Regions from separate parts of the Homo sapiens genome. Here regions 2 and 3 are each reported to be linked to region 1. The links are microRNA targets in miRTarBase. Many come from high-throughput screens and were not tested one by one. Region 1 holds a microRNA gene; each other region holds the end of a gene's coding sequence.

Region 1 (11,157 bases):
GATCTTGGAACGTGTTCTGACCTCAGGAAAGCCCTGCTCAGCCCCTTACCGTGTTCTCCTTGCGAATTAGCTGGCCTGAAGGTGACACTGCTGCTGTCACAGAGTTCTCTGTGCCCTCCTAATTGCTCGCCACCACCATCTCCATTGTGATGGGGAATGCTGCCCGGCCTGAATGTTCCAACTGTCTGTTCTAAATACAGTCAGCTCTCCCAGAGAGTTCTGGAGCCTCGGTTCTTACTGCCTGCCTCTCCCTGGGCAAAATCTGAACCACTGACTTGGATCTGGGATGGGGTGAAGACAAGGGGGACTGTCTCTCAGGGGTGCCCTGCCTCAAAAGCTGGGTGCCTGGTGTCAAAGCCATCTCTGGTCTTCTGGGTTTGCTGCTATCAGTGTGAAACCCACCAGCAAGCTGGGTCAGGGCCACCTGCCTAGGAAGCTCAGCCCTCAGCCTGGGAGGAGCTTCTGCCCTACAAAGCGGGGCTGGCTGAGGGAAAGAGCTGCATCCTGCGATGGAAGTCGCCTGGGACTTAGCTCAGGGACATCCAGCCAGGGGGAGTAAGGAAGCTGGTGCCCTGCTCCTCCCAGAAAATCACCAGGACCCGAAAGACCATGAGGAGAGGGAGCCTCCTCCTGACCCTGCGGCCGCCCAGAGTGGAGCTGTGTCCTGCTGAGCAGGGCTGGGAGGGCCACACGCCCTTCTTAGCTCTACAGAGACCTGGTAGACTTTCTTGAGGAGACACTTTTCAGTTGCTATATACCTGTAGGATGTTTCCAAAGACTTTAAAGCACACTTTTTAAAAATTCCTTTTACGAGTCATGGTTTGTTTCTCTGGGAAGTGGGTTCACTGCCCTCAAATCACTTTTCCTGATATGACCGCTGTTGATTGTTAGGAAGAGTGGAGGGCTGTGCATTTTTATTACGATTTTCAGAGAAGTTCCCAGATACTATTTTTTTAAATCAACCCTCCTTTTAAGTCTTGGAAACTTTCTAGATATAGAAGATACTAGAGGAAGTTTGAATGTGAAGAATCACATGGTTATGGCTCTGTGGGCAGGGGGTTGTTTTCTTATTTTCGTAATTGCTTTTTTTTTTTTTTTTTTTTTTTTTTGAGATGGAGTCTCGCTCTGTCGCCCACGCTGGAGTGCAGTGGCGCGATCTCGGTTCACTGAAAGCTCCACCTCCCGGGTTCATGCCATTCTCCTGCCTCAGCTTCCTGAGTAGCTGGGACTACAGGCACCCGCCACCATGCCCGGCTAATTTTTTTGTATTTTTAGTAGAGACGGGGTTTCTCCATGTTAGCCAGGATGGTCTCGATCTCCTGACCTCTTGATGCGCCCACCTCAGCCTCCCAAAGCCCTGGGATTACAGATATGAGCCGCTGCACCTGGCCATAATTACTTCTTTAAATAAAATTGGATTCTAAATGAAAATTGAAAGCCGTGGGCTGTGTCTTTCCCTTTCAGTCCTCAGGCTGATTTCCTCACCCCCGGGAGCAATCCCTTAAATGGTGATTGTTTTCATCATTGTTACACAACCGTGATTGTTTAGTCAGCTGTGACTAGAAGATCAATGTATCATTTTTTCTCTGTCTTACTTTCTCTTTCCCAAATGTTTTTGTTATTTTCTTATTTTTAGTTTTATCTTTGTTACCTCTTTAATCATAAATGCTCTTTCATAATCAACTTTTTAATTTCCCTCTCTATGCTTCGTGTTAGACTTAATCACATCATTGCTTTTGTTACCCAAAATGGCGGCATACAGGCAAGTTCCAACCATTCAATGTATGTGTATGATGATTCTAAACACGAAAATTGAATAAGCAATATTAACAGTATTATAGTTATCTGAATGTTATTTGTCACATACGTAACAAATTCTCGTGACACTAAAATGAAAGAAAATTTCTTGTCAAAGTTAAAAATATTTGTGTTCATTACACTCTTTTATTGGATCCAATTGCCCACGTTTAATCTCTCACTTTTGTGCCATGTTTTTATTTTATAGAAGTGGTTTTCACCTGCACTTGTAACTGGCGTTTGAGTATTGTTGGCACACTCACCGGAAGAATGTTCCCCTCCCCTGCCCCAAACCTCACATCTTCATCCTGATTAGATTGAGTTTCAGTTCTGCCAAGGACCACCCTGAATTTATTTTTTCTTGAAAGATGGTTAGAAAGACACTTTTTCTTTGTCTGAAACTGTGTTTATTATTGAGCAATAATTTGGTTTGATATGGGATTTGATCTTAAAAAGTACCTTCCTTTGAAATTGATATGACACTCCATTGCCTTTAAGAACGAAAGTGGTCAAGGCTGGTCTACTTCTGAGGCTTTTGAAGGGAACCCGCTCTTCATTTCTTCCTGGGCAGCTCTTGAGAGCATCCTTCTATCACTGCGTTCCATGGTAGCTCATCCATTCTGGTTGTGTTGCTCCGTGTACCCTTCTGCATGAAAAGTCATCCTTCTTCAGCTTGTAACAGTGCAGCTTTTATTTGAAATAAAAGTTTATCCTCCGTGGCATGGTCTCCACTCTTTCTTTCTGCCCCTCCTATAAAGTGTACATTACCAGTCTTGAATCATTGGCTTTGCCTGAATGAATTGTCTTGCTCACCTGTTTTCTAGATTTGTTGTTGTATTCTAATTATCTGAGTGTTTTTAGATTTGTACTATAAATATCCTATTGGTTTTTTTACATTGTAATAATTATATTTCAAATGACTTGTTTTGTTTTGTTTTTTTGAGATGGAGCTTCGCTCTGTCACCCAGGCTGGAGTGCAGTGTCGTGATCTTGGCTCACTGCAACCTCCGCCCCCCAGGTTCAAGCGATTCTACTGCTTCAGCCTCCTGATTAGCTGGGACTACAAGCGTGTGCCACCACGCCTGGCTAATTTATGATTATACTTCAAATGACAAGACTAATTTTTAAAATCTCTGCATAGTTCCTTTATTAGAACAGCCTATTCTTGTATTGTAATTGGCTTCCCTCAAGTTTTCTATAAGGTGTTTAATGAAAATTAAATGTGCTAATTTTGTATATTTTGTGCTCTTCAGTTCTCCACTGTCTGTACTGATGGCCAGCAGCTTCTGTTGTGATTGTTCCTATTCATGACTTTCTTTCATAGTGCTTCACATGTATGTTCATTGATGTGTATTTGTACGTCAAAATCACATTTTTTTGGTTAATATAAAATGGTGATGTATTTATTTTCCTTTTCTACCCACAGTCTGGTAAATCAGACGTTTATAATCTATAGGGCAGTGTTGGGGAAGCGCTTTGCAGATGGGCTGGGAAGTGAATAGCTAAGCTTCAGTTCAACGTGGCTGCACAGTGGGCTGTTGAATTGGTTGAGACTCCCTCAGGTGCCACACTCAGCTGCATTCCCCCCTGGAAACATCGCCCAGCACAGCAGATCAACTGGAAGATTTGGGATATCATTTGTCTTTGTGCAGGAACTTGGGCTTGAACTTGAGGAAAGAAATTGCATGAGGACCTTACAGGTCATCTGCAAATAGCCATTAATTAATTAATTAATTAACCACCTTGACTCCATACCCACATCTGCCCTCTCTAAATGCCAAACAATAAATTGGGAGCTTTGCCAGGATATCTTCCTCTCACTTTGAATTTGTGTTTGAGACGAGTCCTTTCTTCTGTGATGTATCTATTAGATAAACCTTATCTATTTTCTATCTTATACAAATTTGCCAAAATAGCTCATCTACCAGAGCCCATATTCCTACTCTTAAAACCACAATCATTGCATCCCTTTGGTGTTCTTTATGTTTATTCCAGTCAAATTTGGGAAACAATAGAATTAAATACATATGGTAAATTGTTGTTTTTGACCTGTTGTGTGTTTACTGCCTAAGGCCAGTAGGGACTGTGAAAACAAACAAACAAACAAACAAACAAACAAAACTTATCATGGCAACAACAATCCAATCCTGTATTCTGAACTTGGGTTTCCTGTATCAGGTATCCTATATCCTGAATCTTAATGAATGTTTTCTGTTTATGTTGTCCTTGCTCACATTTCAAAGCTAAGCCTAACCTTGGTCAGTGTGTCCATCGCCTAATATTTTCCCTTTATTTCACTGACAAAGACAATTTAGTAAGACTTATGTCACTAAGCAAATTTCCATTTGTAGACACTGAATTGTTTTTTTTTTTTGTCTTTTTTTAATATACTTTAAGTTTTAGGGTACATGTGCACATTGTGCAGGTTAGTTACATATGTATACATGTGCCATGCTGGTGTGCTGCACCCACTAACTCATCATCTAGCATTAGGTATATCTCCCATTGCTATCCCTCCCCCCTCCCTCCACCCCACAACAGTCCCCAGAGTGTGATATTCCCCTTCCTGACACTGAATTGTTATACAGAAATAACTTATCAAGGAAGATATATGCAGCTTGCATAAAATGTGATTTTTAAAAAGTGTATGATTTTTTGTTTGTTTGTTTTGTTTTGCAGAGACAGGGTCCTGCTATGTTGCCCAGGCTGGTCTCAACCTCTTGGCCTTAAGTAATCCTTCCTGGTTGACTTCTCAAAGTTCTGGGATTATAGGCGTCAGCCACCATGCCTAGTATTGGGTGTCTTTAATTTCAGAGGGTTAGAATTATTCAAATCATAATGATCATACATACCATGGAGATACCCAAACTTTCACAGTTCCTAACCTCTTATCTTCACAGCCTCTCTGGCAATACCCTGAGATAGATAGAAACTGTACCTCTTTCTGTTGTATAAAAGTGGGCACCACCAGCTCTGGGAGTTACATTCCTGCAACTGAGCAGAATCGCCCATCCAGCTCCATTGAGCAGAATCGCCCATCCAGCTCCATTGAGCAGAATCGCCCATCCAGCTCCATTGAGCAGAATTGCCCATCCAGCTCCATTGAGCAGAATTGCCCATCCAGCTCCATTGAGCAGAACCGCCCATCCAGCTCCATCCTGCCACCTGGACACAGTGCAACCTGAGTGTGATATCGCAAACTAACAGCTCTGCACTGGGGCAGTAGGGTCAGCAGTGTGAATTTTATTTAAACTCACAAGATGTAAATATCATACCACGTTCAGAATGGAGCTTTTTGGATGCCTATTCTTCTGTCTCATTTCATAAATTCCTGAAGACAGTGAAAGGCAATGCAGATGGGCTTAATTATTATCTTCTTCTGCCTGAGCATGCTGTGAGAAAAGATTAACGGGAGGGAGAGAAAGAAGAGATAAAATATCCATGACACAAATTAGTATTTAGCATACATTTTGAAATCATGCTGTTTCTGCCAGCTTCATGCGTCTTGCCTCATGCTTCTCAACATACAGCAGACCACGACTCCTAATTTCTAGCTTGATCATATTACTATCTATGTTTCAAGCACATTTTCTCCTAGGTTTCTGATATCTCCAAATGTCTTGCACTATATAATTCTGCAGAGAAAGTATGAAAGTTGATCAGGATAAAACATAGAGAATCCTGTTTTAAAGGAGGGCAAACAGACCCTTGGTACCATTCTCGCCATTGTTCTTGAAGCTTGAGAAATTCTAGGTTGTGTGCTGAGCAGTTACAGGAGCTGTGGTATTAACGAACTGCCACATTAAATAAAAATAGGTTCGTACATTATGCACAATGAGTTGCCATGTTTAGCGTCTATTTCAATACTCATGGAAATAAGTTGAAGCACCTTGTTTAGTGCTATAATTTAAGAACTACTCTATGTAATGCAAACCAAAGATGAAATATGTTCATTTCAGCAGCAGCAAGCATATCTGAATGGAACCATCCTCTCGTTAGTAAGTGACTTCCAGGCAGCAGCTAAGGTGCAGTGTGATGAGGAGCAGTAGCAAAGCCCATCCCTGCACCAGCCCCCACCCTGCACCCCCAATTCCTGCCGCTGAACTTCTTCCTTGAAATTACCCAAGGGGAACGTTTTCCTCTGTGCCCTGCCGAAATTGTGCCCAGTCCTGTGCATCTCCCTAGTGGGTCCAGGACTCAGGACTCTGAACGGGCTGACAAGGGCACCTGGCCTCGGGCCTTGAAGGCAACCCCAGGAGTTCGAGTTTAGAACTCGGGAAGCAGGAACAGCTAAGGGCTACTTTGGAGGGGGCTTGTGTGTCTATGACCCGGCCTGAAGAAACAATGATCAGTGAAAACGTTCTTGGCTCATGACAATCCGTGCTTCCGGCTTTGTCAAGGATGTTCAAATGGAGAAGATGAATCATTGGAAAAATTGTGAAGAGGAAGAAATGAGTGTTCCTTTTGCACCTTCTTTATTGCTTCTGTCCTCCACCAAATATCCCCCAAAACCCTCCACTCAGGGCTCCTTGCACTAATGAGAGAGAACACAGTCTGCGGAAAACATTGTGCAGGGAAAACCCTCGGCATCCAGTATGAGGGACAGACTTCTAGGATGTCCAGCTCCATGTGCCAGGCCCCAGGGCACCCCAGCAATGACATAGGACTTCCACCTTCCCAGGTGCCCGGAGCTTTGGAGATGGTGTTGTCAAGAGCAGTGAGACGCATAGCACAGTCTCCACTGCCCCCATTGTCCCGGAATGAAAACGACACCCGCAACAGTCTGAGCAGCAGGGACACCCTGATCTTCCCGGGACTCGGCTTGCTTTGCAGCCTGGGCCACTGTCTTCTGTACCGCAGTCACTGCATAGCCAGCCCCGCAGGTGCCCCCACTGTATTTCCTAGAGAGAGCTGACTTCAGTCACTTGCCATATCAAGGAGAAAATGGTGAACATAGTGGCCGTCTATTTCATCAAAAGAGCAGGCCTACAGGTTCGTTTATTACTCATCCAACCCAAAGAAGAATCCTCTCTTCCTGGTTATGATCGCAGGCCAACCTCTGCCCAAGTGCCCCTCAAGTGAGGGACACACACAGTTGAATGGGCCCGCACCTGCTCATGGCACAGACTCAGCTGCTCTGTCTCTGTTGTGAGTCCCGGCACATGGGAAAAGCCAGTGGATGTTTAAGTCAATGAAGATCTAGAGAGAGAGAGATCAAACGATTTTGTCTCCTCCACTGACATGAACCATAAAGAAGAACCTTGAATGCATATTTTCCATTGCATAAAAAGGATTGGTACCGTTAAAACTATAAGAAGCTACTTTGAAAAAATGGAGAACTCTGAAACATGAATAACTGGAAACAAAGACGACAGTAACTATATCAAGTCTCTGAATACTGTGACTCACACAGGACCCTAGTGAGACTTTATGCGGTGACTCAGGAGTTTGTGCTGGGAAACTAGTCTATGACATAGAGAAAATTTTTTAATAAAATGAATATTATGAGAGAAAACCTACGAGCCATGAAAGAAAATAGAACCAGCACTTGTCAACTCTCCATAGGAAGTCCAGATGAGAAAGGAATAATAAAGAGGGAGTGATCAAAGACGTCACAAAAGAACATTCTCCTGAAATAAAAATACACTCAGTTTTCCATCTCGAAAGGGATCACTGAGTCTAGGGGAGATTCAAAAAGTAAAAAGATACACACGTGCTAGTAAAGATCTTAAGTTAAAAAATGAAGAATTCAATAAGTTTCCAAATAGAGAAAATAAATTGTCTGCCAGGAAATGACCACATTAGCATCAGACACACTAACTTTGATAACAACAACATCAACCCCACAGTCTTGTGAAGGTTGAATCAGTGTAAAGATTTTAGTTCAATGACTTGTAAACATAAGGTCCTATATACATTTTGTGTTTATTATTATTGAACATAGTTATTGCTACGGGGAGTAAACTCATTTTTGTACCACTATGAGATTGCAGAATTCTACTCTTAGAATTTTAGAATAGGTTAAAGTGTTCTTCATAGTTTTCACAGGACAAAGGACATTTTCAAACAAGTGTGGAATAAGAAACACTTTCAGAAGAGTAGATACTTGTGAAATAAGCGTCTGAAATCTGTCAAATTAAAATCTGAATCGGGAATATAAGTGGAAGAGTGGGGCTAAAGTGACAGGATAAAGAATGTCCATGCGAATGATAAGAGTATCTTCTGGTGCCAGATTTAGAAAAGATTGAAAATGATAATTTAAATCTAAAGAAAGTATTAAGAATGTAGTCCTACATTTTGTAACAAATATTTTATTACAAATTAGCAATGACTTAGAGCTAAAAGTCTGCATAAGTTTAATAGAGTCATGGGTATAGGAGAATAAAAGCTAAAATTTTGTTGAAAGTCTCGTGATGGGTTAGGATGCTGGTCTGAATTATTACATACTTCTTGAATCATGTTTAATTATGTTTTTCTCATAAATGAAAACAGCCAGTAGAAACACTGAAAAAGTAGAAAACATTTATGGAGAAATTTTACAACTCAGAGCAAGGGAAAGAATAATGAAAACACAAAAGAAATGATTAAAAGAAAAATATAGAACACGTTGTGAACAAGACTTAATCTAAAAATGATATGAGTGAAAAATTTGAAAATAAAGGAATAGGAAGATTTATAACATAAGAAAGCATATTATATAAGGATGTGATTATTTCATAATGTGTGTTTCAAAGGCAAAAATGTAAAATTTATAAATATGTTTTTATATCACTAGTTTTCGATACAAAATAAAATGCATTTTATTTCTATATTATTGAAGTCCAATTGAAGCCATTATACTATACATAGTTAAACTGTGTAATTTAATCAGCATCAGATATTTCTATAAAATCAACAACACAGCTGAGATTACAAAGTCTATTATTTATTTATTTATTTAGTACAGACAGGGTCTTGCTGTGTTGCCCAGGCTGGTCTGAAACTCCTGGCCTCGAGCAGTCCTCCTGCCTTGGCCTCCCAAAGTGCTGGGATTACATGCATGAGCCACCATGCCCATACTATTTTATTTTAACATGTAAACTGTTCACACATGTAACTTATTTACATATTTTAATATGTAAATATGCTTAATACTTTAGCCATAAATTTTCTCTGACAAGCTATATATTCTGTCTTCATGTTTCTTAAGCATCATGGGTGTATTAGTTTTCTAGGGTTGCTGTATGAGCCTACCATAAGCCTTCAACAACAGAAATGTGTGTCCTCACAGCTCTGGAGGCTGGACGTCCAGGGTCGAGGTTCGGGCACAGTTGGTTCCTCCTGAGGCCTCTCTCCATGGCTTACGCATGGCCCCCTTCCTTCTGTGTCTTCATGAGGTCTTTCCTCTGTGTGTGTCTGTGTCCTAATCTCATTTTATTGCAAGAATACAAGTCCTATTGGATTAGGGCCCACCCATATGACCTCATTTTAACATAATTATTTTTTTAAATAAAGACCCTACCTCCAAATACAGGCCCATTATGAAGTACAGGGGTTAAGACTTCAAGATGAATTTTTGTAGTTCACAGTTCAGTCCATAATCAGAGTTACTCCAGGTCCCCAAATTCATCTGGTGATCATCCATTTCCACCAGCTGTCAGTCAGCATACCTCATTCATTAACAATTAACTACCGCTAGTACCTAATCACTCACTCATTTCTACCATGTGCTTACTGCTTCAGAAAACGTACTGTTTCACCAAAGGCTATTGAATGTTTGTGAACAACGAAAACACAACAGAGAGAGGTCTATAGTTAGAGGGAACATCTGGAGTCCTGAACACCCTGACTGCAAAGTCAAAGCTGCTTTGTTGCAAAGGCAGGAGGGGGAGGAGGTGGACACGGCTCACCTGGGACACTGTGGCATTTCTTGGTGATTGATTACCTGAAGTCAGAGTCCAAAGTCTCAAGCTCTTTGAAGCTCACAAGTAAAACATGACCTTTAATATCAGCTGTTCCCAGCCCAGAGGGACAGAGTCACAAAGCCCAACTCCTACACTTGTGAGACAACATGGATGTTTATTGTTTATGCTAGTGAGGGCTTGTGGCTCATGACCTTAGTAAAGGGATACAGAGGTTGGGTCTAAAGAACCTAGATCTGACATAACAAGACCCTTTTCTGTGTAGCACTGGCCTTTGGACTGGAGATGGGGATGTGAGAAAATTGTGCACAAATCATTGAAAATTGTTGAGGAAAAATACTGAGAAAATTGTCCCTGGAGGCCAAAAAAATGTGAACCACGTGAGGTGACTGAGAAATGATCACAATTCTCTCACCTGCAAAATACCTGATGAACTTTCAGATGTGACCAACGGGATCTCCAGCCAAAATATTGAAAGTGCCAGCTACCTGATCTCGGCTGTTTATTGGAAGCTTTCAAAAGTAAAAAAGATGAGTGAAATAAAACATTGCCCAGTCTGTACAAGAATTTAGAAGGGATAGAGAGAGCCTGGTCTTGTGGGAATGGAAAATAAAGCCATTTCTGATCTTTCATCTCTTTCCAGCCAGCAAAAGACTCTCAAAATAATCTATAGCCTGGGGGCACGGACAAAATCAGTGGTGTGGCAGCATGACCCTTGGTGAGGGGCTCTGTCAGGTTTGAGGCTGTGCCTAATAGACACTTTCAGCTACACACAAAAAATCTTCAAACAGAAGTCCCCAGAAGCCTGACATAGCCAAAGGAGCACAGATAAGACTAGAGAGAGAAGTCTGTCTAGAAATTAATTATGAGTTTGTCTTTTTTCAGGTGGATTGAAATGGAATCAAATACAAAGAAGTCTGCAGGATTTTCATGGGAGTTGCACAGGCTCTAGGGACAACAGCATGGACTAAAAGGCACTGAAATTACCCCAAACACAAAGAGATCTGCAGGCTTCCAGATTATCTTGGGGTAGGGGCAGACTGGGAAATCTACCCAGCCACTGAAATGGCTCCTTTCTTCAGAAATCCAGATGCCACATAAGGTGATGGAGAAGAAAGGACATCTCAGAGTGTGAACCCAGGAGCCATGCAGACCAGTGGACTGAGGAATGACTCTGGGGGTCAATGAGGCCCAAATCAAAGTGCAATGCTCTCTCCTGGAGGTGCCAGCATTTGCCCTGTGGATTTCAGAATTACTAAAGACCAGTGACTGCTCTGTGCTTCTGTGCTCCATCCTTGCAAGTGTTTCTTTCTGTGGAGGTCCTTATTGTGGTTATTCTCTCTCACCATTGTACGTTCAAGGTGACTACAACACAGAGATCACCCACTGCTAAGATCAGCTTGTTCTGTCCCCCAGAGAGGTGGCTGATGGTGATGGTAGGATCTTGAAGCTTCATCAT
Region 2 (10,711 bases), not on the chromosome of region 1:
GTGATAGATGGTCACCCCATCTTGGGCATTCAGTCTAGAGATGTGGACGTCTCTAAGGAAAGGGTACTCAGTATCTTATTAGGCAGCCTGTTCAATCGCTAATTTTAGGAGTTTGAAATTTCTCTATGGCTTAAAAAAATGAAATCAATTGGTTGGTGACTTTTACCCATTGATTGTCACCCTGGCTTCTGGTGAAATACAGAATACGTTTTCTTTCTTTTTAAATATTTGAGAACAGCTGCTATATTTTTGTAATAATTTATTTTGCAGGCTAAAAGTTTCTTGTCAGTAGATGCTTCTGAGTCTGTCTATAAACCTGCTCACCAGGATGCAGTTTCATTTGTCAGCGCTGCTCTTAGAACACGGTATCCATGAGAACACAACACTCCAGCTGTGCTCACGCCAGTGAGGACAGCAGTGGGCCCATCCATTTAGTTTGATTTGTTCCTTCCTCCTCTTCCAACCACACTCTTCCTAGGTCACCACAACGGCCTCTACAGGGTAAAGCCATGTTAATGTTATACATTGATTTTATGACAAAATCAAGGCATTGTGGTTTTAGTGCAGCCCAGATGAGTCCCCGAGGATCAGCGTTACCACAGCTACCTGGTAAAAGGAAACCCTGGAATGAGCCTCATTACTGCTGTAATATAATGTGCTCTAAGCAATTGCCCTTCCACCTTTCCCCTTCCCAAACAGCCAGGGCAAGAAGCCCGAGTTCTTGGCTGTAACTGATAAACAGTGTGATGAGAACAGTTTGTTTAATTCTCGTTAATGAGTTGGCTGCAGTAAATTCCCAGCAACTAAGGACTGAGAACCTCAGAGGCAGGGCTACAGCATCCTTCAATGGGAAGTTTTAGGGCTGCTCTGTCCAGCTTCTAAAGTGTGAAGCCAAGATGTGTGGGAGACTGACCGAGGGTCACAGCTCATGTCTGATAGCAATACAGACAACTCTGGAACTTGGGTCCTAGTGTGTTGCTTAGCTGTTGGTGCAAGACAACAGAATAGGCAGATGGGAATTTGGGAGCCACCTTTTGTGGTGTGTACTTTAATGGCTGTAGATAGTTTCTGGATTGGTCAAGGTCTCCTTTACACAGTCCAGTGGGGGAGAAGTCAATGCCAATTGTCCTACAAGCATTACATGACAGAGGATTCTCTCCCTATTGCATTAATTCTTTAGCAGTGAGCCCGGAAAGATAGTAGGGCCCGCAAGACCCCCTCCTAGCAGTGCCTCTAGCAGACATTGGAAGCCAGCTTTTAGTGTGAACTCACCAGCCATAAAAATGTCAGGCCACTGAACAGCTGCGGCTCTTCAGGGTCAAATAGCTCACATTCAAGGCAGAAAGAGAGGACTGTTTTCTGTAAAAGGCATTTTAAGAGAATTCCTAATAATGAGGTCTTCTGATGGGAGAGTAACTAATGAAGGTGGTTTGAGGGAAGGAAGAAAGGGAGGTTGGGAAGGAAGGAAGTTGAGAAGGAGGGAGCAAAGTCTTTTCCTGTGAGCCTTGTAATGACAGTCAGCTTGCAAAAATTATCTTAAACTTGAAATCCAAAAGGCTTATAATCTGAACTGCTTGAGAGTGACTAGCTCACTAGTGACAAGCCCTCCTTATTATTTCTTCCCTCTGGATCCTCAAAAGTTAAGATATGAATATTAAGGTCCTATTAGTCTAAGAGTTAATCAGAGTGTTTTAGGGATGGGGCTGATGTCTTGAATGGTGGCAGTCTGCATGGAAGTCCAAGGAAGTATTGTGAAAAGCCATCCCATAGAGCTGTTTTATCGAGATATATCCAGATGTGAATAAACTGGAAAAGCAGAAAGCATGGAAAGTTACCAGAGGGAGTTTACCTGAGGCAGCCGGTATGTGCAAAGGAGTAGGATGACTTGGCCTGATTGGGTGGGAAGGTTTCTTGGCTATGTATATTGGGACTTTTCTTTCTTAAGTAGACTTTATATTTTAGAGCAGTTTCAGGGTCATAGCAAAACTGAACAGATGGTACAGAGATTTCCCACATACCTCCCGCCCCCATACATGTGCAGCCTCCCCTATTATCAACATCCCCAACCACAGCTGTCTATTTGTTACAATTGATGGACCGACACCAACACCTCATTATCACCCAGAGTTCATAGTTTACATCAGGGTTCACTCTTGGTGTTATATATTTTATGGGTTTGGACAAATGTAAGATGACATGTAGAGAGTATTTTCACTGCCCTGAAAGTCCTCTGTGCTCTTCATACTTATCTCTTCCTCCTCCTGTCCCCTGGTAACCACTAATATTTTCCCTGCCTCCCTAGTTTTACCTTTTCCAGAGTGGAATCATACACTATGCAGCCTTTCCATATTGGCTTCTTTCACTTGGTAAGATGCATTTAAGACTCCCATGTCTTTTCACGGCTTGATAGGTCATTTCTTTTTAGCACTCAATAATATTCCATTGTCTAGATGTACCACAATTTATCAGTTCACCTACTGAAAGACATTTTGGTTGCTTCCAAGTTTTGGCAATTATTAATAAAGCTGCTATAAACATCTATGTGCACATGTTTGTGTTGACATGAATTTTCAACCCATTTGAATAAATTGCTGGATTGTATAGTAAGAGTATGTTTAGTTTGATAAGAAACTTCCAAACTGTCTTTTAAAGTAGCTGTACCATTATGCATTCTTACTAGTAATGAATGAGAGTTCTTGTGGCTGCATATCCTCTCTGGCATTTGGTGTTGTCAGTGTAGTGGGTTTTGGCCCCTCTAATGAGTGTGTAGTGATATCTTGTTGTTGTTTTAATTTGCCTTTCCTTGATGACACATAATGTGGAGCATTTTTTCATATGCTTATTTGCCATCTGTATATCTTCTTTGGTGAGGAGGCTGTTCAGATCTTTGGCCCATTTTAAAAAATTGAGTTGTGTTCTCATTGGGTTTCAAGAGTCTTTTGTATATTTTGGACGACAGTCCTTTACCTGGTATGTCTTTAGCAAATATTTTTTTAACAGTCTGTGGCTTGTTTTATCATTTTCTTGACTGTGTCTTTTGCAGGCCATAAAAGTTTAATGAAGTCCAGCTTATCAATTCTTTCATGGATTGTGCATTTGGCGTTGCATCTAAAAAGTCACTGTCAAACACAGATGACACTGCCAATGTCATCTAAATTTTCAATTTTCTCTTATCTCCAGGAGTTTTGTCATTTTGTTTAAGTCTGTGATCCATTTTGAGTTAATTTTTTGTAAAGAATGTGAGGTCTTTGTCTAGCTTTATTGTGTTTGCATATGGATGTTCAGTTGGTCCAGTATTATTTTTTGAAAAGACTATATTTGCTCCAGTCTTACCTTTGCTCCTTTTTAAAAAAATCAATTAATTATATTTATGTGGTTCTATTTGTGGGTTATATTATTAGTCTGTTTTTTCACCACTACCACACTGTCTTGATCACTGTAGTTTTATACTATGTCTTGAAGTAGGGTAGAATCAGTTTCCCAACTTTGTTCTTTTCCTTCGATATTGTGTTGGCTTTTCTGTATCTTTTGCCTATTTATATAAACTTTAGAATCAGTTTGTCAATAAAAACAAAGTAACTTGCTGGGATTTTATTGGAATTGCATTGAATCTATAGATTAAGTTGAAAAGATCTTGACAATATCATATCTTCCTATCCATGAATATGAACTATCTCACCATTTACTTGGCTCTTCCTTGATTTCTCCCATTAGAGGTTTGTTGTTTTCCTCATATAGATCTTGTACGTATTTTGTTAGATTTATACCTAAGTATTTCATTTTGGTGGTGTGCTCATATGAATGGTATTGTATGTTTAATTTTCAATTCTACTTTTTCTTTGCTGGTAAATAGGAAAACAATAGACTTTTATGTATTAACTTTGTATCCGGCAAACTGATTTTCCTAAGCTGCTGGTAGTCACTCCTTTCCTCCCCCGTTTTTTTTGTTTTTGTTTTTTTTTTTTGGGACAGAGTCTCGCTCTGTCGCCCAGGCTGGAGTGCAGTGGCACGATCTCGGCTCACTGCACGCTCCGCCTCCCAGGTTCACGCCATTCTCCTGCCTCAGCCTCCCCAGTAGCTGGGACTACAGGCTCCCGCCACCACACCCGGCTAATTTTTTTGTATTTTTAGTAGAGACGGGGTTTTACCGTGTTAGCCAGGATGGTCTCAATCTCCTGACCTCGTGATCCGCCTGTCTTGGCCTCCCAAAGTGCTAGGATTACAGGCTCCTCCCCTGTTTTTGTCTTCCCGTGTCCTTGCTCAGCATCACAGTCATCTCTTCAGACACCTCCTCCCATCCTGGAAGAGTCAGGGTAGCTCTCAACTTAATTTAACTTAGGAAAGGTTTTCTACGCTGGAAGTGATGGTGAGGATATTAACAAGAAATGCTCATGATTACATGAGGGATTGCAGATTCCTTTGCCCAGAAACGTCCTCACATGACCATAATGGGTGCGAATGAGATGGGATAATGATACTGAAATCAGTACCATTAAACCATTTCCTTTCTTCCTTCTCCCAGCAAAAGAGCAAGAGAATCATAAAAAACAAATGCTTTATTCAAACAAAATAGAAAAAAATCATACGTAGGAAACTTTTTCCCACGAAAAACGAAAACATATTAAGGTTTGATACAAATAAGGATCTCCTTTGTCTGAAAACCCTGGGGTGCAGTCCTGTGCTCATTTGTTTGTTTGATACCATGGAAACATGCAGTTGATTGCAGTAGATAAAAGCATGTTAGGGAAGAGACCAAAGGGCAGGTCTGACATTTTCCACAGGATTCAGATAAAAAATAATTCTGATTGGTATTTGCTATGGAAAACACAAAATCCTTATAAACAAGAAACTTGTTCCTCCATGGGCCCCAAATTTTCTCAAACATAAATAATTCATAGGCAGGACACGCTGGCCCATGCTTGTAATTCCAGCACTTTGGGAGGCCAAGGTTGGAGGATTGCTTGAAGCCAGGAGTCTGAGAACAGCCTGGGCAATAATATAGTGAGGCACTGTCTCTGAAAACATTTTAAAAATAAAAATAATAAGAAAAAAGAATTCAGATTTTAAGTCATCTCTTAATTATAGGCTCAACAGGTTTTTAGACTTCAGTTATTATCAATAGAGGCAACAGGGATATAGATACTTAAAACAGTATATAGACCACACAGAAAATAAGCACATAACTCAACACAGTGATGGTTTATAAACACCCCATGTGAGAAGCCCTAGACCCCTGAATTTAATTCTCTCTATATAGTCTAGTGGTTCTCAAAGATATTGTTTATGGAACTAAATGGTATCAAGTAGCTGTTAAGCCTTGGAAGTTGCTAAATTTAGGTTTTCCACTTTATAGGAAACAGCTGATGTTATTAAAAAACAAAAACAGTCACAGAAAGTTTTACCTTCCAGAACTCAGCCTTTTGAACACAGTAATGCATCACATAACGACGTTTTAATCAACCATGAACTGCATATATGGTGGTGGTCTCATAAAATTACAATGGAGCTGAAAAATTCCCCATCACCTAGTGACACTGTAGTGCATTGCATTACTCATGTGTTTGAGGTGATGCTGGCATAAAACAAGCTATTGAGCTGCCCGTTTTATAAAACTATAGCACATCCACATGAACAGTACGTTAATACTTGACAATGATATGTGTTACTAGTTTATTTACTACAAATGTGTTATTTTGAAGTATACTCATTTTTTTTTTAAAGTTAACTGTAAAACAACCTCAGGCAGGTCCTTCAGGAGGTACTCCAGAAGGCATTGTTATCACAGATGACAGCTCCATGCGGGTTATTGCTCCTGAAGCCTTCCAGTGGGACAAGATGCGTAGTGAAGACAGTCTCATTGATGATCCTGACCCCATGTAGGCATAGGCTAATATGTCTTAGTTTTTAACAAAAAAAGTTTAAAAAGTTAAAGTTAAAAACCAAAAAAAGCTAATAGAGTAAGGATGTGAAGAAAATACCTTTGTACAGCTGTGTTTTAAACAGTTATTATAAATCAAAACACTAAATGTTAATAAAGTAAAAGTTATAGTAAGCTAAGTTTTATTACATAATTTAAAAAATAAATTTAGTCTAGCATAGATGTACAATGTTGATAAAGCCCACAGTAGTGTATGTCCTAGGCCTTCACATTCACTCACCACTCACTGACTAACCTGGAGCAACTTCCAGTTCTGCAAGCTCCATTCATGGTAAGTGCCCCATATAGATGCACCATCTTCAATGTTTTATATGGTATTTTTACTGTATCTTTTCTATAGATATGTTTAGATACACAAATATCATTGTTAAAATTGCCTACACTATTCAGTGCAGTAACATGCTGTGCAGTTTGTAGCCTAGGAGCAATAGGCTTTGTATACCATATAGCCTAGGTGTGTAGTAGGCTATGCTATCTACATTTGTGTAAGTATACTCTATGATGTATGCACAACAATGAAATCAGCTTTTGGCACAATTTCTCAGAATGTGTCCTTGTTAAATGACACATGACTGTAATTGTGTCGAAAGCACAGTATTTTAATAAAGGTTATCCCTTGACTAACAAAAAAAATGCACATTAGGTTATAGAAAAGGGGCAAAGTTCTGGATGGATCACATAACTTCACCCCTCTGTCAGAAGCACATTTCCTTCAGTGATCATTGTTTTGGGGAAACTGAAGACAATGAAGCATATGATCTGAAAATTTCACATTCTCCCCCCTTTCTATTAATACACCAAGGTCAACTGAGGATCTAGGTGGTTCTGTACATAATTCCATACCCAAATATACAAATAGGCAGTGGCTGAGTTTGTGGGTGGGAATATAACATTTGTCTAACATGCAGAAGGGTCTCTCCTATCTGAGTGTCAGCTCCACAGAACGTTGTTACTATGAAGCCATGCAGTGAGGTGATAAAAAACAAGATGGTCAGCTATTACAAGAACATCATGAGTTCATTCCAAAGATGATAAGAATTAGTGTTTGGACTGCTTGGGTATTTTATCAGTCACTGGGGCAGTTTGTTTCCAACGTGAACTTAAATTGAGCTAAGGGTGGCTAGGCAGCAAATGTGATGTAGGACAAAGGGAAAGCTTCAACTTTCAGAGGATACTGATAAACAAATTTCTTGATCTGTATGGGTGCCATTTCCCATACTGACCCATATCAAGTTAATTTTTAATAAGAAAAACATGCCTCAAAACAAAAAGGCTTTGATTCTAGAGACTAGAGATTATTTTCTCTACTCTAGTTGAATAATTTCACCAGTAGCCCTACCATACATGAGTTATAACAAGAAATTGTATAACTCATACATAAACCAAGTATAGAAAGAGGTGGCATATGATAACCTGAACATACTGAATGCTGCCATAATAGAAAACTATATTCTTCTAGGTCCAGTAAGTACAAGTTTAAAAACAGGTATATATTTCCGATTCAGTGAACAATTTGCAAAATTGAAATTCAATGGTGGAAACTGCAAAGCAGTTTGATGACACTGTTTTAATAATTCATAGAAAGCATATATGTACACCCAATGAATTCATCTCTTTATTGCATATTGCTATTTTTAAAAAAACATGTACAGTCTCATAACACATACTTTTTTTTTCTCAGTACTATCTAACAACAGTCTTGCACCTAAAGACTAAGTGGTTCCAACTACTAAGCTAATAAGATATAAGACATATAATTAAGTTTACAAATTATGCATTTTCTTTTTGGCATTAATTTAAAAAAACAAAAAAAGTTTAAAATACACACCCAAGAGAGAAAAGTGGCTACTTACACCAGCACCAATCTAAAAAGTAGGTTTTTTTTTTGTTTTTTTTTTTTCTTTTCAACAATGGCACATGGAATTACCTGCACACAGTTTTCAGGGAAAGAAACCAAAAATGGAAATGGCAAAGGAGGCCCACCAGGATGGCCATATCAAAGGAGGATGATTAAAAGGGGCAAGAGGGACAGCTACACAAACTTGCTCCTTTATGTGACTTTCCCTCCACCTGTCTATTCCTTAAACTGTAAGACAAAGCCATTTTCAAAATACAGTTCCAAAACTGAGCCAGACCAAATTTATCCTGCTACAAATAGAAAAGAATATACATAGAGGCACTTTAGTTAAGGAACAGACAAAACCATCATTATATTCCAATCTTCCTCATCTCCAAGCCTTTTTGAGCCAAGTCTCTATCTGCACCTTTAACATGGTGTTATTGCAGACCTGGGTTAACTCGGGATTGGGGGAGTGCAACCTCTGCTTTGTATTTATGACTGTTTTATTTGCTAGTCATTTATTTCCATATAGTGTGTAGAAAGTCACTAAATTTGCAATGAGGAAAAGATGTAAAACCACAGCTCTTGACAACTCTTAGAGCACTATTTCACAGCTTTCACATAGCACAGATAACTCGCCATCTGTGCTAAGCATTATAGTTTATACAAATTATTTTTAAATAGTATGATTCCTGTACAGTGCACACATTGGTATTCTATTCATCCCTTAATATCCCCATTAGAATATAAGCTCTTTGGGGGCAGGGACTCTGTCTTGCTTACCATTGTAGCCCTACTATGCCTGGTACATAGTAGGAACTTAATAAATATTTGTTAATTGACTGAAAAACTCAATTTAGTGAGTAAATAATGTTCTAGTGCAACAGGACAAACTACTCTCTCCACAGGAAACCCAACCACAACAGGATCAATAGAAAGAAAAGAGAAAACGTTAGCCCCCAACTACAAATAAATAAAGCAAAGCCAAAAAAAAAAAAAAAAAAAAAAAAAAGTAAAAAAGTAACAGTCCTCTTTATATATCACATAATTTAAGGATATTAAGAGTTGGTAGGTTAATGGTAAGCATCTATATTTTATTTTCTAATGTTCATTGATTTTATTCATGTCTCCCTGAGAGCTTTATTTTTTTGGACTGAAATTTTACAGGTAGCTTTACTGACACACAATTTTAAAATGACAACATATAAACAGCAATCACTTCAAATATACTTAGAGATAAATAGATCTGGGCATCTCTGCTGATGTTGACATTTTGTGCATTCTTTATGTATCCTTTAGTCCAGACCTATATTTACAGAAAATGCAGCTTGTCCTACAAAACAGAAAATAGAAACTATAACAAAAAGGCACCCCATTAATTTTTTTTTTTTTTTTTTTTTTTTAGTAATCTTTATCCCTTCAGAGAATTCTTCCTTTAAGTCTTGGGTGAGATATTTTATTATTTTTAAGGTTTATATATCTATATTGTTAGAACAAGCATACTCTGGCAATGTTGTTCTTTAAAAAAAGCATGGATTGCATTTATATAGTGTTTTTTTCCAAAAATCTGAAGAAATTATCAAGAGCACTTGGCAGAGATAACTTGATGAAATCAGGGGAAAAAATTGATGTCCAACTTTTAAATATACAAAAACTTGATTGACATTCTACATAATTCAAATTGTGTGCAAGATGTTCTCAATAAACATTTACAGACTGTATCCCCACACCAATGTCAGAAATTCAAAGCTGGTCCTATTACTGATGTGATACATCAACATCACAATGTCAGCTATCAAAAATCATTTTAAATCTATGTTTTTCCAACAACTCCAGTTCCATCAATGAAAATAATTTTAAAGGATATCAAGCTTGGAAACCATAAAATATTTTGCAAGCTTTTTTTGTTTGTTTGTTTGTTTCTTCTGTTTTGCCTTTGAATCTAGGGAATGTCTCTTATCTCTTTCAGGAGATAGTATTGTGCTTCTGAACAGTCATGGCGTTCGGGGAAAGAAAATGAGCCACACTCAATGTGAATGCATACACGAAAGGTTTTGGAGCACATACATTAACATAAATCTTTTTAACCATACGTATAGGTCTCCAGACAACACTCAGACATCTATATACATTTTTTAATATATACACACATACATTTACATACACACGTTCACACATTCACTCACAGATGAAGGAAAAAATTGCCACTGTTTGGATTGCAAGGCAGTGTAATGAAACGTTCTAGTCACTTTAGAGGGCTGCTAATGAGCTTTCTAAAAAAAAGTATTCATGGAAAATTAGAAATTAAGTTTTGTGATTGGTCTCTCTCTGCTGCTGTCAGTCATCTGGTTGGTAATACGTTTGCGATTCCGTTTCAATTTAGAAAGGTCTTTGTCAAACACTTCTCCTGAGCGTAAAGCTGAAACAAGGTCATCAAACTCTCCGCTTTCTTCACTATTCTCTTTAGCTTTTCTCATTTTACGTTCCCTTTCACGTTGTTCTTTGAGCTGCAAATAGAAAGAAATAACCTCTTTGAGACATGTCAAAATGTTGCATTTTGTTTGCAGTAGAGGTCAATTCCTTGAAATATGGTAATGCTCCAGACACCAAGCTATGCTCATCCTATAACCCCCTTTGGATATCACAAGAAAGGGGGAATTGGAACATGGGGTCTCCATTGCAGGAGCAATGGACAACAAAAAACAACCACTCCCTTGTGGTTAGACCCTCACCACCTAGATTCTAGGTAAACTGCATGATATTCTAGTTAAAATAAGAGCAATTGAGGCAATTTGTGTTTCTGCTAATGAAAATTAAAAAAAAGGTATCACTATTACATAGACCCCAAATAACTAAAGCAAATGGTCATCAGGCCATTTTCCTTATATCAAAGGCTTAGCTTGTGTCTACTGTGGAAGCCTGAAACCTGATAC
Region 3 (11,157 bases), not on the chromosome of region 1:
GCAACAGTGTGCTCTTGAGCAGGCTGTCTGGGTCATCAGGAAAAGCCATTCCAGTTACTCACGCATTCTCTGAGAAACCTTGTCATCTCTGCCATCTGTCTCTGTGTAGGAACTGCCAAAGTCCTTCGGTTCCCCATCTCAAATAAGCAGTGCATGGGTTACTTCCCTCATTCTAATCCTTCAGTCCCTCCTTGTGTCCGTTTGGATCTTCCAGGAAGCAGCTTTCAAGATGGAGTTAGAAGTACGAGTAATGAGGGGTGATTACCGTGAAAGATAAAGGGGAGAGGCTGTAGGGGGGAAGGCCTCAGACCACCATGCAGGCTGACTGTGAAGGAAAGGCAGGGGGGATGAGGGAAGACTAAGATGAGCCTCAGGCTACAGTACAGTAAGTCCTCACTTAATGGAGTTGATAGGATCTTGGAAATTATGACTTTAAATAAAATAATGTAGAACAAAACCAATTTTCCCATAGGCTAACTGCTATAAGAAAGAATTAAGTTCACAGCATATTTCTGGTCATAAAACACAACATCAAACTTCTAAATAAAGACCAAACACTTCAATATTTAACACTGAAATAAATGTTTACATATACATTTAGGAATGATTACTAATACTAATGACCAATACTAGGCCAGGCACAGTGGCTCATGCCTGTAATCCTAGCACTTTGGGAGCCCAAGGCAGGAGGATAGCTTGAGCTCAGGAGTTTGAGACCAGCCTGGACAATACAGCGAGACCTTATCGCAACAACAACAACAACAAAAAATTAGACAGGCATGGTGACATGCGCCTGTAGTCCCAGCTACTCAGGAAACTGAGGTGGGAGTATCGCTTGAGCCCAGGAGGTGGAGGTTGCAGTAAGCCAAGATTGTGCCACTGCACTCTGGCCTGGGTGACAGAGTGAGACTTTGTCTCAAAAAAAAAAAAATTACTAAAAACAAATAATAATTACTCACCCAATGATTCCAGTTCAGAGTTGTGGGTGGCCAGAGCCTATCCCAGTGGCTCAGAGCACTAAGTGGGCATCAACCCTGGAGAGGATGGTATCTGGCTGTAGGGCATGCTCACACCCACACCCTCACTCACTGTGGCACCATCTAGACACCCCAATTTACTGGAAGTGCTCATTTTTGCGATGTGGGAGGAAACCAGAGTACCTGATGAAAACCCATGCAGAACATGCAAACTCCACACAGACAGTGGCTCAGGTTGGGAACTGAATTTTTTTTCATCAATGTGATAACAAAATGACATCAAATAAAATGATGTTATTCTAGCACCTAATATACACTCTGAGAAAGTCTTGGCCACCCCAGATCCCCGAGATCAGCAGCTGGAGATCTCGGGATATAGTTCAGTATTCCAGCATCAGCTCCCAACACGGAGCTCCTGCCTTGCTCAGTCAGTGGCAGAAGCAGTCTGGGGAGAGCATGGCACCAGCTGGAACACTGATGCAGATCCCTGAGATCTGTAGCTGGAGCCCATCAGCTGACTGCACTCCTCACACAGGCTCTCTCTCGAAGGGGGTCTCAGACACATCTCTGTGGCTACCACACTTCTTTTGGTCAAAGCTCAGCTTCCTGAGGAGTTGTAGCACTTAGCTTATGCTGTGTAACAAAGCCAGTATAAAACAGTGGCTTTAAAAAACATTTTAAATATTAATGTAATATTTAAAATGTTTTACATATTAAAAGTATTTTCCAAGTATTTGAGAGTTGGCTCTGCCAGCTCTGCTGATCTCAGATTTGCTCACATGGAGTCAGGTGGCTGTCATCTAATCTAGCCTGGCCTCCACTGGAGCAACAAGGATGTGGTAGCCAGCATCTCTCATCCTCCAGCAGGCTAGTCTCGACCTGTTCTTCTCCCAGCACCATTAGAAGCACACGAGGAAGCAAATGAAGACACACAAGACCTCTTGGGGCTTACACTTGGAACTGGCACGCCTTCACTGCTGTCTTCTTAAGTTGGCTGAAAGAGGTCACACAGTTAGAGGCACTACAAAGTTACACAGCAATGGACATGGATTCAGGGAAGGGTGTAGGATTGGAGTCATCTTTGCAAACAACTAAAGGATCCAGCTGATCATAAAGGGTTTGTTTTCTTTTTCCATAAGCATCATTGCTGATGTTGGGGTTATCAGCAATAAACTGATAGTTTTACAGTCTCACCAATGCACCACAATGTAGCAGTCTCTCATTGCCCAAGGTATCACCTGAAGTTCTTTGTCTCATAACCAAGAAAATTAAGGAGCATGGACCCCAAAGGTGAGGTTGGAGCAAAAATTTAAAAAGTGAAAAAAGAAAGCTCCCCACTGCCAAGAGGGGGCCCAAAAGAGTGTCGCCATTTCACAGTTGAATACAGAGGCTTTTGTAAGAAATTGATGAGTGCTGGGCATCTCATTTGCATAAAGCATGAATTTCTGGTAGTTCTACCCTATCCTCCCAGTGTGCATGCAGGCCCTTAGCTTGAGTTACTCCATATGGCTTTGTTCCCCTTACTGCGCATGTCTCAGGGAATGGAATTTTCCATTGTGGGCATCTCTGGGCAAGTCTCCTGTGTAGTCTTTCTTACCTAGGCAGCTGTGGACATGTCTAAGGCAAGCCTCCCTGTACAAGTTCTCTTCTCTGTGCCTGCAGTTTGATTTTTCAAGCTGTTCTTTTGTTTGGAAGAATTTTACCGAGGACCCACCCTAACTGCCTGTCTGACTGGTTTCTTCCTTCCTCCTTTCTCATTCCCTGCTTCAGGAGTGGAGACCCCAACTGCTGTTGGGGAAAGTGGACGATGACCACTCCTGGCTGCTTCCTGCTGGAAGGGGGCGTCGTTGGGGTTACAGCAGTTAGGGCTCCTCCTGAGATTGGTCTAAGGGTCCCCAGAAGAATGGCGTGTCTATGTGTGGTTCTATCTGCAGCACCATTTGGAGTTTAATAGCCTCTAAGTGAGAGGAAACAATTTGAGTTACAGTATTGAATATACAAAGTCCAAACATTAGTACAAAACACACGAGCAAAAGGGGGCCTAATAAAGGAGCTAACCAGTTCCACAAAGAAGACTGGAATCCATTTAAGAGGGATTGTAGCCAACTGGGACTGGAGCCCGCATTCTCTCTTAATCTGTCAATGTTCTAATTTGATCTTTAAGCACCTGTACATTCTCTTCTACTTGACTAGAGGTATTGATCTAGAAGTGACATGCTTCTTTTTAAAAGTGCACAGGTACCCCCTACTTTGGCCATAAGGATATCTAGGGCCTGTCTATTTTGCATAACTACTGAGGCTAAAGAGTTTATGAATTGTTGTTGTGCTTCTATGGCTCCTACTGTTAGCTTCTACCCTTGTGGCATCATAATAGAAATATTAAGTACTGATTTTTCAAGGAGAGGAATACCAGCAAACCAGAATAGGCCTCTGACTATAGAATCCCCTATCCATGGTTTTTCTGAGATAGGATTGTCATGTGCAGGTCCTACCCAATCTTCTCTTTCAGTTAAGTCTCCATATGAGGGCATGGAAATGATAGACCTCTTTGTTCAGCGCATCTGAGATAGCACACTCACTAGAAAAGACGCTAGGCTAGGGATGTCCCCAGATGATGCTGCCATATCAGTGGAATTTAAAGATAACAGGTCAGGAACCACTGCCACGATAGTGCAGGTTCCCTTCCAGTGCCTAGGGAGGATTAAGTGTAGCCAGGAGCCACAAAGGAAATAAAGCCCTGTCCCCTGAAGGGCCAGTTCTAAGTTGTAGCTTGTGAGAGACACAGGCAGATCTTTCTCATATCTTAGAAGCTTCCCCCTCCTGCATGTAATAGGAACATCTTTGGGATGGGGATATCTATACTCAGGATAGTCACTCACGATGCCATTTGGAATTTTACATGCTAAATGAGAAAGGTCCACCTGATAAATTGAGTTTTGTTTGTTTGTTTGTTTTTTGAGATGGAGACTTACTCTGTTGCCCAGGCTAGAGTGCAGTGGCACAATCTTGGCTTTCTGCAACTTCTGCTTCCCGGGTTCACGCAATTCTCCTGCCTCAGCCTCCCGAGTAGCTGGGACTACAGGCATGCACCACCACGCCTGGCTTTTTTTTTTTTTTTTTTTGTATTATTAGTACAGACGGGGTTTCACCATATTGTCCAGGCTAGTCTTGAACTCCTGACCTCATCATCTACCTGCCTCAGCCTCCCAAAGTGCTGGGATTACAGTCGTAAGCCACCACACCTGGCCGACAAATGGAGTTTCAAAAGACCAGGGACACGATATGCCCTGGCCAATATCTCAGATAATGCCCCCTTGTGACAGGGGCTGTCAGTCCAGAAGTCTCCTGTTCTGTTCACCCACAGATTTGTAGGCCACTACTACTAAGCATCATACAGGGGGTCTGGAATCCCATGAGGGTGCATGTCTGGGAAGGCCTATGTGTTGTTTTTTACATTATAGTGCCATGTGTCAGGGTGGTTACCCAGAGCCTGCCATTCCCAGCAGGACTTTCAACCAGGAGGAGACGCTGAATTCTGAAAGCCTCCCCTCCATATGGCTTCCAATTTTCTTAGATCATCCTTCTTATGTCTTTTTCTCCAAACTTCCGAGCTTTCAGCAATTACAAGTATGGTGTTATAATATTTGAGATCTCCCAGGTATGGTCCTTTTCCTCTGCTTTTAAAACAGGAGGAGGCATTTGCTATTACCCGGCCAACTTTTCCTAGCCTGAGGGTGTGAGGCTTATCTTTGGGGAAAGTGTTTTCTGGCACCAGGGAGGAAATGCTTTCCTGGGAGGAGTTAGTTACTCAGTTGAAAGTGTTCCCATACCATGTTCCATTTATGCCTGACAAGTCTTTAATGGCTAAAGGTAAAGCTAACAAAGGGAATGCTAAGACAGTAAATACCAAGTCATCAAGAGGTTCCTTAGTGTTACTGAACTGAGCAAACCGCTCAGGACAGACCCAGCAATTTGTCTTGTATAAATGGGACATGGCTGACACAGTAGAGGCTAAAGGGTGTGACGTATTACCAAACCCAATAAAAAGTCCTAGCAGACTCGGCCCTACTGGGTAGAGGCTTCTTTAAATGAGGGACCATTGTTGTTTTGGAAGTACTTAGGGAGCCCAAAGTGAGGAATTATTTAACTAATTAGTATTCTCACCACCTCAGAGGCCTTTTCTGTTGGGCATGGGAATGCCTCTACCCAGTTAATGAAGGTATGCACCCACACCAAAAGACATTGAATGCCATTTATTTTGGGCATATGGGTGAAGTCTATCTGCCAGTCCTCCCCTGAGTAACTTCCCATCCTTTGATTGTGGTGGGGAAGAAGTCATCTGTTAAAGGGATTATTTTTAAGAGGGTTTCACGAGTATTAACAACCTATTTGACCATTTTTAGTAGATTTTCTCCTGAGAACAATCTTTGGATGCACTGATGTCTTATGCTTTCCTAAGTGAAAGGCTCAGTGGAGGATTTTAAGAATCTTCCATTGGCTGGAGGCTGGCAAGCGTACTTTGCAATCTTCTGATTGTAACCATCCTGAGGGTTGAAAAGTATACCTCGAGAGGTGGCCCATTCTATCTCTGTAGGGGAATACTGAGGCTTTATTTCCCTTATGTAGCCCTCCCAAATCAGAGGGGCCTCAAGTGTTTTGGGACCTTGGGGCCTTCTTACTGCTGACTTAGCTCTTTGGTCTGCTAGCCTGTTTCCTTTCGCTATTTCATCTACCCGCTTCTGATGCCCTCTGCAATGTCTGACCACTAATTCTCATGGGAGGAACACTGAGGATAATAGCCTGTTGATGTCTTGATGGTATTTAATGCAAGACCCATTAGCGGTGAGGAAGTGCCTTTCCTTTCAGATGGCAGCATGGGCAAGGAGAACTAGAAAGGTACACTTGGAGTCAGTATAAATGTTAGCTGTCTTTCCTTTGCTTAGTTCAAGTGCTCTTGTGAGAGGGATCAGCTCAACTGATTGAGTGTGTGTGCCTGGTGAGAGAGGCACATTTTCAATGTTATTTAGGGTGACTACTGCATATCCCACTTTTCAGACTCCCTGTCCTACAAAAGAGCTCCCATCCATAAAGTGGGTCCAGTCTGGATTTTCTAGGGGAATTTCTTTGAGATCCTCCCTAGCGGCATAGGTTGTACTACAGTCTGTTCACAATTATGTTCAGTTTCTCCAGTTTCCTCTGGGAGGAAAGTGTCTGGGATCAGGCAAGGTCAGGTTTTTAACTGGACTGCAGATTCCTCTAGCAGCAAAGTCTGATACTTGAGGAGGCAGCTGTCTGTTAGCCAGAGACTCGCTTTAGAGGACAGCAAGCCTGCCACATTATTTATGTGAGGCATAAACAGGTTATTCCCCAGGGTTAACTTGGTGGCCTCTGGGACTAGCAGGGCCACTACTGTAACTGCTCAGAGGCAAGCTGGCCATCCTTTAGCCTCCAAGTCAAGCTCTCTACTTAAGTAACCTACTGGCTGTTGAGCTGGGCCTTGAACTTGAATTAAAACTCCCAGGGTCATTCCTTTCCTTTATGATACATAAAGATTAAAGGACTTCCCTACAGAAAGACTGGGGGCTGGTGCTTTAAGCAAGGCTTGTTTTAACTGATTAATGGCCTTTTGACCTTCAGGTTCCCAGGTCAGGAAGTGAGTTTTAGCCACTTGAATTTCTTTTATAAGGTGATATAAAGGGCAACCTATTTTATCATACCTGGGTATCTATAACCTACAAAAACCTGTAATGCCCAAGCATCCCTCAGCTGCTTGAGGGTTCTGGGGAGAGGAAGGGAGGAAATGGGATTAATCCTCTCCTCGCCTAGTGCTCTTGTTCCCTTCTGACAAGACCAGACCTAGGTACTTTACCAAAGTCTGATAGAGCTGAGCCTTAGATTTTGAAGCCTTATATCCCTTTCCAGCTAGGAAATTAAGGAGAGCCTCAGTGCCGTCTCAAGAAACTTCCTCAGTTGGGGCACAGAGGAGAATGTCATCTACATATTGTAAAACTTTAACCTGAGAATGGAAGAATTCGAAGAGATCTCTTGACAATACTTGCCCAAATAGGTGGGGGCTATCTCTAAATCCCTGAGGCAGTACAGTCCAGGTTAACTGGGTGGTTTGATTGGAGGGGTCTTCAAAGGTAAACAAGTATTGGGAGTCAGGGTATAAAGGTATACAGAAAAAGGCATCCTTTAGGCCCAGAACTGTGAACCATTTAGTTCCCTTGGATATTTGAGTTAGCAAAGTATAGGGACTGGGATCTACTGGATGAATCGTAATCACAGCCTCATGAATAAGGCAGAGGTCCTGAACTAGTCTCCCTTCCCCATTGGATTTTTGCACCCCTAATATTGGGGTGTTTCAAGGGCTACTGCAAGGCCTAAGGAGGCCTTGTGCCTTTAGGTTATCAATGCTGGCGTCTAGCCCTTTTCTACTTTCTGGCTTCAGAGGGTATTGTCTCTGGTTAGGAAAAAAAGTGGGATCCTTGAGGTGGATCCAGACTGGTATAGTGGTTATAGTCCGGCCACTTCTTCCCTGAGTTGCCCAAACCTCTGGGTTAATACTGGTTTCCACTAAGGGGAGGCGGAGTTTGTCCTGGAGCCATAAGGATGGTGGCCCCCATACGTGCTGGAATATCTCTATCTAATAAAGGAGTGGGACTTTCAGGCATGACTAAAAAGGCCTGTGTAAACAGTAGGTCCCTCTGACTGCAACTAATAGGTTGAGAAAAATATCAAGTTAAAGTCTTTCCTGAGATGCCCATCATGGTTGTGCTATGGGAGGAACGAAGGCCTGAATTGGAGAGGAAAACAGAAGCCTGGCTCCAGTGTCCAGAAAGAAGTCTACCTTCCTCCCTTCGAACTCCAGAATCACCTGGTGCTCCCGGGTAGTAACAGCAGTCTGAGCCACTGGAGCCAGGGAGTTGAGCCCCAGGACCCATCAGTCCTGCTGGACCATTTGTGAGACTGGCTCTGGACTCAGTGACCTATGCTTCCCAGGACAGTCTGCCTTCCAGTGGTCCCCATTGTATACTGGACAGGGTTGAGGTGGCTTCTTCTTGCTGCCTGGGCAGTCCCTTTTGAAGTGCCCTAGTTTGCCACATTGGTAGCAACTAGCAGGTGTACCTTGGGGATACTGGGTTTTATACAAAGTGGCCACCAGAGTCTCTGCCTTTTTCTTGTGTTTCCTCTCCTTCCCCTGGGCCTCCTCCTGGTCCCTATTATAAAAGACCGAGGTGGCTACCTTCAGGAGGTTTTGTAAGGTGCTATCTAATCCCATGGCCTGTTTCTCTAGCTTCCTTCTGATATCAGGGGCTGTCTGAGTAATAAACTTGTCTTTCAAAATTAGCTGTCCCTCAATTGAATTATTTATGTGAGGTATAAACATACCTAACAGGAGACAAGGAAGTGTGTTTCACTACAGCCTCTCTCAGCCTTTCCAAAAAGGCTGAGGGATTTTCATCTAGTTTTTGATCTATCATGGAGAGTTTGGGGTAATTAAGAGGCTTGGCTCTGGTCCTCTGTAGGCCCTCTAATAAGCACATTTGAAAATGTTTTCTTTGCCACTCATCTAAGGTACCACTGGGGTCCGAATTATGTTGTTCAAGGGGCACTGCCTCGCTTCCTATTGGGTATGTGAATGCTGGTTGTTTCTCACCTTCTTTCCTTATTGAGTGGCTATAGAAGACATGTTGTTCATCTCTGAATTTTTCTGCTGCCTGCAGGGCTACCTGTTTCTCTGTAGTAGTTAAGAGTTTAAGAGCAACATAACATCACCCCAAGTAAGGTCAAACACCTGAGTTAGGTTTTGGAAAGCCTCTATATATCTATCAGGTCATCAGAGAACTTGCCCAGGTCCCCTCTTATTTGCCCAAGGTCCTGTAATGAAAAGGGAACTTGGACCCTAGTGGCACCAGGTCCATCAGGCATTTACTGTAGGGGTAACAGTAAAGTTGGGGGTTGGGAGGATAGAACTGGAGTTGTTGATGTTGTGGCTGGAGGAGGTTCCCAGATAGGGGAGACAGGAAGGATTGGGGCATCCGGAACTGCATCCGAGTGTTCCCTAGGGGTTTGTTTCTCAGACTTTGTGGAATTATCATCTATGGACTTGCCTGATGTAACTGTTAGGAGAGCAGGGTCAATTCTACAACACTGACAAAGATCTGGGTTGTCTCGCAAGGCAAAGAAGGCTTGCACATAAGGAACCTCGGACCATTTGCCCTCCTGTCTGCAGAAAACATCTAGTTGTTGAATAGTATTAATATTAACACTTCCCTCAGGAGGCCAAGCCTCCCCATCCTGCAGCTGGTAAGACGGCCATGCCCGAGTGCAAAAGAATATGAGGTGCTCTTTCTTCAGAGTCTGAGTGTCAAAGGAGTTCCAGTGTTTCAGAATGCACTTGAGAGGAGTATAGGCTGAAGATGATTTGTTACATATCTAGAAAAAGAGGAGAGAAAAGGCATCCCTTAGTCTCCTTTGTCCTTCTGGAGTGATCGACAGCAGAGAGAAAAATGGAAGGGGCGTCCCCCTTCTCCTCTTCCCTCCCATTTCCTCAGGTTCCTGGTGACCATTATAGGTGCTGCCCATGGATCAAAGCATGACCTTCACCCATGAATCCGGAGGAGCTAGCTTGTGCTCACCTGCACAAGGTCCTAGCTCTCTGCCCTGCTGGTTTCCTAGACCTACTTGGCCCATAAGGCTCCTGAGATTCCCTAGAACCATGGGAGAGATTGTGCAGTAGTTGGATTGGGGCAAGACCCTTTAAGGAAGGGAACATCTTAACTCTATCCTTACATCCTCTTACTACCACCCTGGCAAAGTTATGAATTCCTAGAGAATGAGACTGATTGATTTCTAAACACAAGATCCCTTTCTCACTTAGATGCCAGTGTAGCTGTGTACAGAACAGATGCCTCAAAAGAATGTAAAAATTGAATGGCTGTTCTCCCTCCAATGGGGATAACACTGAGGCTAAAATATGTCTTCCCAGGGTAGCTTCTTCCTGGCTGTTGAAAGAGGAGTTTTTATGCTTACAAATAGGGCATGGGGCCTGATCACTGAAAGAGGGACATAAGAGAGAAAGGAATCAGGGAACTAGAGGTTTTGGGCAAAGGGCTGACAAGGCTTCTCACAGAGAAAAATCCCATCCCACTAGGTAGCACTATAGGGTTTGAAATGTTAGGAAAAAACTCTGACTACAAATTCTTTCCAAGCAGAGGTCAGAAAGGGAGGTTTGGGGCTTAATAGGCTGTCCCCATAATATGCTGTCCAGTAGAAAAAAAACTAGTTTGTCTCATAGAGGGAATGCTTAAATTCATTGGGCAATGCTGAGCTCTTACATGAAGGAAAAACAACCTGATGGAGAAAAGGGTATTCACTTGGGGTGAAACATCCCCCTATAGAGTGCCATGAATGTCTATCACTGGGGGACAAAAAGGCCCTAAGTGAAAATTTAGGCTGAAATCTTGAAGTCCCCCTGTCTCAAGGAAATCACAAAAACAACAATTATTTGAGTTACATTCCTCGTTACTAAGGCACTTGCTGACTTTGCTTAACAGGATTATCTCCCCAGGCTATAAAGACACCCACAACATTGCATACAAAGAAGGAATAGGAGACATAGTAGCTGCGAAAAGCAAGGAAGAAAATGCAATAGAAAAGTCTGGAAGTCCTGGTGCCAACATTCTGACGGGCTGTCGGGGGCTGGAGTTAGTCCAGGGACCTTCAGGTAACACTGAGGAGTAGCCTCAAACAGAAACCTTCAGTTGCCCCAGGACCTCCTTCTAGCCCATGTGACAGCTAAGTCCTCTGTGAAAGGAAACTGGATTAGAACAGAGCCAACATTCCCAACACCTGAGGGTGAAGGGGGACTGACAAAGTCCTCTCCAGCAAGCCTGTATCTTAAGTCTCATAAGGTTGGCAGCCGCTCTAAAAGCTTTTAACTGGCCCAGTGTTTTGTTCAGTCTTCAGGAAAAAATCTGAGGACAAGAAGCCTCTGAAATGAAAGTAAAGAGTTTGGAGGTCCGCTCCTACTCACCCTTCCAATGTTTCCTGGCCAATGCACCAAAATGTTAGTCTCGTCAATGCACCACAATGTAGCAGTCTCTCATTGCCCAAGGTATCACCTGAAGTTCTTTGTCTCATGACCAAGAAAATTAAGGAGCGCGGACCCCAAAGA

The links. Region 1 holds the annotated microRNA hsa-miR-6072 (UCCUCAUCACACUGCACCUUAG, at 5,818-5,839, opposite strand). A microRNA usually pairs through its seed, bases 2 to 8, with sites in the 3' UTR of a target mRNA and lowers its output. Matches are read on the target gene's strand: a 7mer-m8 pairs with bases 2 to 8, a 7mer-A1 pairs with bases 2 to 7 and ends in A, and an 8mer does both.
Region 2: miRTarBase lists DAAM1 as a target of hsa-miR-6072. Seed matches in the 3' UTR shown: 8mer at 8,161-8,168.
Region 3: miRTarBase lists NCR3LG1 as a target of hsa-miR-6072. Seed matches in the 3' UTR shown: 7mer-m8 at 4,158-4,164.

What each region holds. Positions count from the first base shown.
Region 1 is chr10:2,070,214-2,081,370 of GRCh38, forward strand. It overlaps MIR6072 (microRNA 6072), which reads right to left and starts at 5,876; the gene lies at 5,806-5,876. RefSeq lists enhancers at 80-581, 582-1,081.
Region 2 is chr14:59,368,224-59,378,934 of GRCh38, reverse strand. DAAM1 (dishevelled associated activator of morphogenesis 1) reads right to left here. Exons shown (of 25, transcript NM_001270520.2): 25 at 7,532-10,285. The coding sequence ends at 10,076. Among named protein-coding and RNA genes, the nearest start is that of GPR135, 92 kb to the left of the region's middle.
Region 3 is chr11:17,370,265-17,381,421 of GRCh38, reverse strand. NCR3LG1 (natural killer cell cytotoxicity receptor 3 ligand 1) reads right to left here. Exons shown (of 5, transcript NM_001202439.3): 5 at 4,081-9,416. The coding sequence ends at 8,910. Among named protein-coding and RNA genes, the nearest start is that of KCNJ11, 13 kb to the left of the region's middle. RefSeq lists enhancers at 2,038-3,237, 4,544-5,082 and a silencer at 9,504-9,704.